Linked DNA regions of Homo sapiens. The protein of the gene in region 1 purifies or fractionates together with the protein of each later gene. This does not show direct contact. Each region holds a gene or a part of one and is shown in the gene's direction. Other genes may lie near its edges.

Region 1 (3,500 bases):
GTTTCTAGGTAATATTGGTCCTTTGTTCTCTATAGTTATCTCCTTTAATTTTATTTATATAATAGTGCTTATTTGTGTTGAGCCTCTTTATATATGAAGCAATAGTTAAGAATAGTTAAGGCCGGGCGCGGTGGCTCACGCCTGTAATCCCAGCACTTTTGGAGGCCGAGGCAGGCAGATCATGAGGTCAGGAGATCAAGACCATCCTGGCTAACACGGTGAAACCCCGTCTCTACTAAAAATACAAAAAATTAGACAGGCATGGTGGCACGCGCCTGTAGTCCCAGCTACTTGGGAGGCTGAGGCAGGAGAATCGCTTGAACCCAGGAGGCGGAGGTTGTAGTGAGCCGAGATCATGCCATTGCACTCCATCCTGGGTGACAGAGCGAGACTCCGTCTCAAAAAAAAAAAAAAAAAAGAATATGGGCTTTGTAATTATACAAATATGTTCAATTACTCGATTGAACAAATATGTTCAATTACTTTTAAATTATGTAATCTTGGGCAAATTACTTTTTCGTGACACTCATAGTAGTGACAGTCATAGAAGTAGATTCCTTAATGATAAAATATATATATAGTTCTGCCCCCAAAACTAAAAGATTAGGACATCAAACAATTTACTTCTTAGACTTAAGCATGGACAAAGGAGTAAGTGTTATTTTAGTATGAATCTATTCAAAAACGGATGGCCTGAAACTATAATTGCCTAATGTCTTTAAAAGTTTGTTTATTTCAGTCAGGTGTGGTGGCTCACATGTAATTTTGTGGAGGTTAGACCATTAAACATGTAAAAAATAAAGTTTGGCTGGGCGTGTGGCTCACGCTGATAATCCCAGCACCTTGGGAGGGCAAGGTGGGCAGATCACTTGAGGCCAGCCTGGCCAACATGGTGAAACCCCATCTCTACCAAAAAATACAAAAATTAGTCAGGCGTGGTGGTGCACACCAGTAGTCTCAGCTACTCAGGAGGCTGAGGTGGGAGGATCACTTGAGCCCAGGAAGTTGAGGCTGCAGCAAGCTGTAATCATGCCACAGCACTCCAGCCTGGGCAACAGAGTAAGACACTGTCTCTAAATAAATCAATTAATTAAGTTCAATATGAAATTTAGCAGTTCAATTCCAGTCTATTATAAATTGGTCAATGCTGCCTTTTTTCTATTTATCAATTTATCTATCAATCAATACCTGATTGATACTTCTAAAATTAATCAGCATTTTGGCATTGTAGATATGTTAAGGCAAAACACATATTCTATTGACTGGGTTGAAGTTTGGTTTTATAATTATCTGAAGTCCCAAATCATGAATAGATTTATTTATTTATTTATTTATTTATTTATTTATTTATTTTTTGAGACAGAGTCTCACTTTGTCGCCCAGGCTGGAGTACAATGGCATGATCTCAGCTCACCACCGCAACTTCTGCTTCCTGGGTTCCAGTGATTCTCCTGCCTCAGCTTCCCAAGTAGCTGGGATTACAGGCATGCGCCACCACACCTGGCTAATTTTTGTATTTTCAGTAGAGACGGGGTTTCACCGTGTTGGCCAGGCTGGTGTCAAACTCCTTACCTCAGGTGATCCGCCCACCTCGGCCTCCCAAAGTGCTGGGACTACAGGTGTGAGCCACCGTGCCCGGCCATGAATAGATTTAAAATAGCTTTTTTAAAACTGAAAATAGGTTTAGAACTTCAAGCTTAATTGGGCCAAATTTAAATTCATTTGGATAATTAGTATCAGATATCACTTTGACCAATCATAGCTCTTGCTTTGCAGGATTATATAAGAAAACTGGTAAACTGGTATTTCTTGGATTGGATAATGCAGGAAAAACAACATTGCTACACATGCTAAAAGATGACAGACTTGGACAACATGTCCCAACATTACATCCCAGTAAGTATATTCCTACATACAATGTGATACTTGATCAAATGATGCTGAGTCATATGCACTAACCAAAAGTGTTTTGTTTCAGACAGGGTCTTTCTCTGTTGCCCAGGCTGCAATGCAGTGGTATGATCACAGTTCACTGCAACCTCTGTCTCCTGGGCTTAAGCCATCCTCCCGTCTCCCAAGTAGCTGGGACCACAGGCATGTGCCACCATGCCCAGTTAATTTTTATATTTTTTCAGAGACCAGGTTTCGATATGTTTCCCAGGGTGGTCTTGAACTCCTGAGCTCAAGTGATCAGCCTCTCTCAGCCTCCGAAAGTATTGGGATTACAGGCGTGAGCCACTGCACCTGGCCAAGTTTTTTGTTTGGGGGGCATTTTCTGGTAGATAAATTATGATCAGGTGATTTGACCTGTTCCTAAAATAATAAATTATAGGTGACCTCGCTCCCAGGGAGAATATTTAGATCTTGAATTAGTACTCATACCTTTTTATCAGCTAGTACTCCCTTCTCTAGCTTGAGGAATTAAAAAGTTTTTGTCTGAGGGATTGTGACATGATTGGTAAATAGTCCACCATCGCCTTGTTTACATAACCTGAATTTTTTCTTTCAGATTTTTTTTTTTTTGAGGTGGAGTCTCACTCTGTCGCCCAGGCTGGAGTGCAGTGGCACGACCTCCGCTCACTGTAAGCTCCACCTCCCGGGTTCACGCCATTCTCCTGCCTCAGCCTCCCGAGTAGCTGGGACTACAGGCACCCACCACCACGCCCGGCTAATTTTTTGTATTTTCGGTAGAGACGGGGTTTCTCCGTGTTAGCCAGGATGGTCTTGATCTCCTGACCTTGTGATCCGCCTTCCTCGGCCTCCCAAAGTGCTGGGATTACAGGTGTGAGCCACCGCGCCCAGGCTTCTTTCAGATTTTAAAGCCATATTACTTTATTTTATTTGTGTAGAGACAGGGTCTTGCTCTGTCATGTAGGTTGGAGTGCCGTGGTATGATCATAGCGCACCATTTAAACTCCCAGGTGCAAGTGATCCTCCTGCCTCTGCCTCCCAAAGTGTTGGGATTAAAGATAGGAGCCATTGCACCATGTACTATTTTAAGCACTAATTCAGTAGATACATTACAATTTTATACATGGCTGGTAACTCAATTTGTTAACCAGTTATTTTTCTAGTCTTAATAACCTCAACAATATCTAATGTACACCACAGAATTAATCTAAAGAAAACAAGGCATATATTGACACACAGGAAGTTTTAAAACAAGGGTGGGTGTGGTGGCTCATGTCTGTAATCCCAGCACTTTGGGAGGCTGAGGCAGGAGAATCACTTGAGCCCAGGAGTTTAAGACCAGCCTGGGCAACATACTGAGACTCCATCTCTACAAAAACAAAAACAAAAAATTAGTCTGGCATGGTGGCATACACCTGTAGTCCTAGGTACTTGGGAGGCTGAGGCAGGAGGATCACTTGACCCTAGGTGTTCAAGGCTTCACTGAGCTATGATTGCACCACTGCACTCCTAACCTGGGCAACAGAGTGAGACCCTGTCTCTAAAGAAACAAAAAATACCAAAAAAATTGAAAGTTTTTTTTTTTTTGA
Region 2 (3,280 bases), on another chromosome or scaffold:
GCCACCCCTCAACTCGGATTCTCACTCCATGATGGCCTTGTTTCTCTCTGGCTCTCTGGCTTGGACTGGCTGTCTTTACTCTTCAGTCACAAGCCCAGGCTCCCTCCCACATTTCATGTCACCATGTGAGCACCCACAGGTGGCTGAACTCTTTCAGTTCCAGCATCAAAAGTCCCAGGGAAGGAGCTGATTGGGCCAGGGCCTCCTTGCCTAGGACAGAGGCTGGGGGCAGTGTGGCAGCTCCCTCTGGTGGAGGGGCAGTTCTTTGGAAAGAGGTTCCCGGTGGTTGGTCAGATGGTGCCTGCTTTGGTGGCTGTGTGACCAGAAGGGTGGCTGGTGTCTTGGGGAAGGGAGCTGTGTCCCGGTGTGAGCCCTGACTGCTTTATTTATGCCCCCGTAGTGTGGAAGGGGAGTATGTCCCAGTGGAAGGCGACGAGGTCACCTATAAAATGTGCTCCATCCCACCCAAGAATGAGAAGCTGCAGGCCGTGGAGGTCGTCATCACTCACCTGGCACCAGGCACCAAGCATGAGACCTGGTCTGGACATGTCATCAGCTCCTAGGAGATGGTGGAAGCACCCCTTGTCCTGTGCTTGTGGGAGACTTTGCAGGGAGGAGGCAGCAGACACTGGAGATGACATTCTTCCACACGAGACGGGGCTTCAGCCGGGCATGGTCCCTCTCAAGTATCTCCTGGAGGAAGGGGTATGGGGGGCAGGTGTGGGGTGTGGGGTGTTCCCGGCCATCAGCACAGCCTATGACCATTGCAACAACCTCTCACCATCTGAAGAGCATTAAAAGCATTTAAAAAGGAGAGGTGCCCACTGGTGGCTGAGTGGAGGTTCCAACCCCATCCCAGGGAGTGGATCAAGGGTGGTATTTCTCCAGCTGCTCAGACACATGGGCTCAACCCACAGAATCCCTCTTCCTCCTGGAGCTGGAGGCCCCAGATTCCCAGATCTGGCCCCCTGGCAGCCTGACAGGGACCTTGCGTGACTTCTCCAAGGCAAATTTCCACCTAAGTGCCCCTTGCGCCTCTCCTGGGGCCTGGGCAAAGCAGTTTTCTAATTCTTGGCTTGGTTGGTTCTAGGGGAGCTGGCTTGAAGTGGGTGGGGAAAGGCGGGGGTGGCGGTCTTTGGATTGGACGGATGTTGCCTTTTGGTGCCTTTGCAGTGGGAGGCGGCATAGCTGCCTGTCTGGGGAAGACAGTTCTCCCAGCACTCCCACCCCTGGGCACAGCAGGCTGGTACTGGGAGGCTGAACCCCTCTTAGAGCCTGACCTTTTCATCTGCCTTCTGGTTGTGTGACCATCACTCAACAGCCATTTCACAGCCCCTGTAATTATGGCGGCGGGGGGCTGGGGTGGTGGTGGTGGGAAGGGCTTGTGGAGAGGACACAGTCTTTGTTTAAAAACTTTGTCCCGATCCATCCAGAAAAGAGTAGGTAGCTTGCATCCTGACAGCCTGGCAAAGTCAAGAAAGTTGAAGGAGAAACATACCTTTGGAGAGGGGGTTTTCTTTAAAACTAGTGTTAAGAAATGCTTAGGGATTTTTTTTTTCTTATTTTTCATAACTAAAGCTTTCACCCAGAGCCGGCTCTGTTTGCACTTTGCTGCCGACATTGCAAACTTTTTGGCAGGGTGGGAGACTGAGTCTCATTCTGTCACCCAGGCTGGAGTGCAGTGGCCCGATCTCAGCTTACTGCAACCTCTGCCCTCCAGGGTTCTGGCAATTCCGCCTCAGTCTCCTGAGTAGCTGGGATTACAGGCATGCGCCACCACACCCGGTTAATTTTTGTATTTTTAGTAGAGACCAGGTTTCATCATGTTGGGCAGGATGGTCTTGAACCCCTGACCTCAGATGATCTGCCCATCTCGGCCTCTCAAAGTGCTGGGATTACAAGTGTGAGCCATCGCGCCCGGCCTGCAAACTTTTTTGTAGGTATTTCTGGTAAACAAATCCTTAGGTTATCTTTGCTGTGGTTGTGGTTTGGCTTTAGTCATGATTTCAAAGTAGAAATAGCTAGGCATTATTTTTTGAAATATATGACCTATATGTAGTCAAGAATCCACTGAACAGAGGCAAGCAAACCTTTTGGAAACTGGCTTTTGGGCAGACAGTAAACGTCCAGTTTGATGCTGGAAGCATGAACAGCTTCATCAGGTAGGTACTCCTCAACTCTGATGAGTTTGTCCTTTCAGCCTAAGGGGGTGGAAGGGAGTTGTTTGAGAATAGCAAATACGCATGTTGATTGCGAGTGTGTGGAGACAAAGGCAGTTCCCACCACAGTTAGGTCCTGGCCATTGTTTCCTCGCCTGCGATGCTCCTTGTACATCCTCACCCTCCTCTCCCGCCTCTGCCTTCTGCTGGGTCAAAGGTGGCCTTTTCTCTCCAGCCTTGAATTGTTCCCTGTTGGCTTCCCAAGGGCCCATCTGCTGGTACAGTCCACACTTCCACAGCCAAGACCCGAGAGGGCTTTCACTGCCCCAAGCCTCTCTCCTGTGACCCTGGGATTCTGTCTTGGCAGAATCCTTTGTCAGCGGCTCTTACTCTGTCCTTCCTGTTTGGCCACAGCTCTTTCAATCAATGGGTATTCTAGAACCGCAGGATGTCAGAGCTGGAAGGGACGCGATACCGGTTTACACAAGGGGAAACTCCTCGAGGCTCTGGGAGGGACGGAGGGTTTTGGTGACAGAGCGAGAGCTAAAATTGAGGATTCCTGAATCCAGATCTTGCCTCCCATCAGCCATCTTTCTCCCAATAAATTTTTGTTTTGTGCAAGGCTATGCGTGTGTTTGTGTGGAGGCTGGCTCACCAAGTTTTTCCTTTTAAGTCGTCAGATAAGGGTGTCTCCCCCAGGTGAGGCTGACACATTCCACGTGGCAGTCTGTTTTTTTTAGGGGATGGTGAATAAGAAGATGGGATCATCTGTTTTTTAGTCATCATTCTCTAGCATGAGAAAGCTTAGCAGAGAGGAGAATGCGGCTTCCTGGCAATAGAAAATGCCAGTAACTTGGTCAGCGGCGCTCCAGTGCCCTGTTGAAGCTTTTAGGATGTGTGAGTTACACCTCATCCCCATCAGCTGTGGGAAGAGAGGACGGGCCTCGGGGCACACTGTCCACAGTCCCTGGCTCATTCCTGCTATAGAAGTGTTTTTTGTTTGTGTTTTTGAGACAAGGTCTCGCTTTGTTGCCCTGCAGCCTTAACCTTGTGGGCTCAAGTGATCCTCCTTCAGCCACCTGAGTAGCTGGGACTATAGGCATATGCCACCATGCCTGGCT

Evidence for each region.
Region 2: the proteins of SAR1B (region 1) and CARHSP1 purify together in Homo sapiens (affinity purification with mass spectrometry; one large-scale study listed by BioGRID and IntAct). This does not show direct contact.

The regions. Positions count from the first base shown.
Region 1 is NC_000005.10:134,619,329-134,622,828, reverse strand, and holds part of SAR1B (small COPII coat GTPase SAR1B), read left to right. Parts: intron 1-1,776; coding exon 1,777-1,896; intron 1,897-3,500. UniProt on the Homo sapiens protein: Small GTPase that cycles between an active GTP-bound and an inactive GDP-bound state and mainly functions in vesicle-mediated endoplasmic reticulum (ER) to Golgi transport.
Region 2 is NC_000016.10:8,852,447-8,855,726, reverse strand, and holds the end of CARHSP1 (calcium-regulated heat-stable protein 1), read left to right. Parts: intron 1-400; coding exon 401-563; 3' UTR 564-2,780; downstream 2,781-3,280. UniProt on the Homo sapiens protein: Binds mRNA and regulates the stability of target mRNA. Binds single-stranded DNA (in vitro).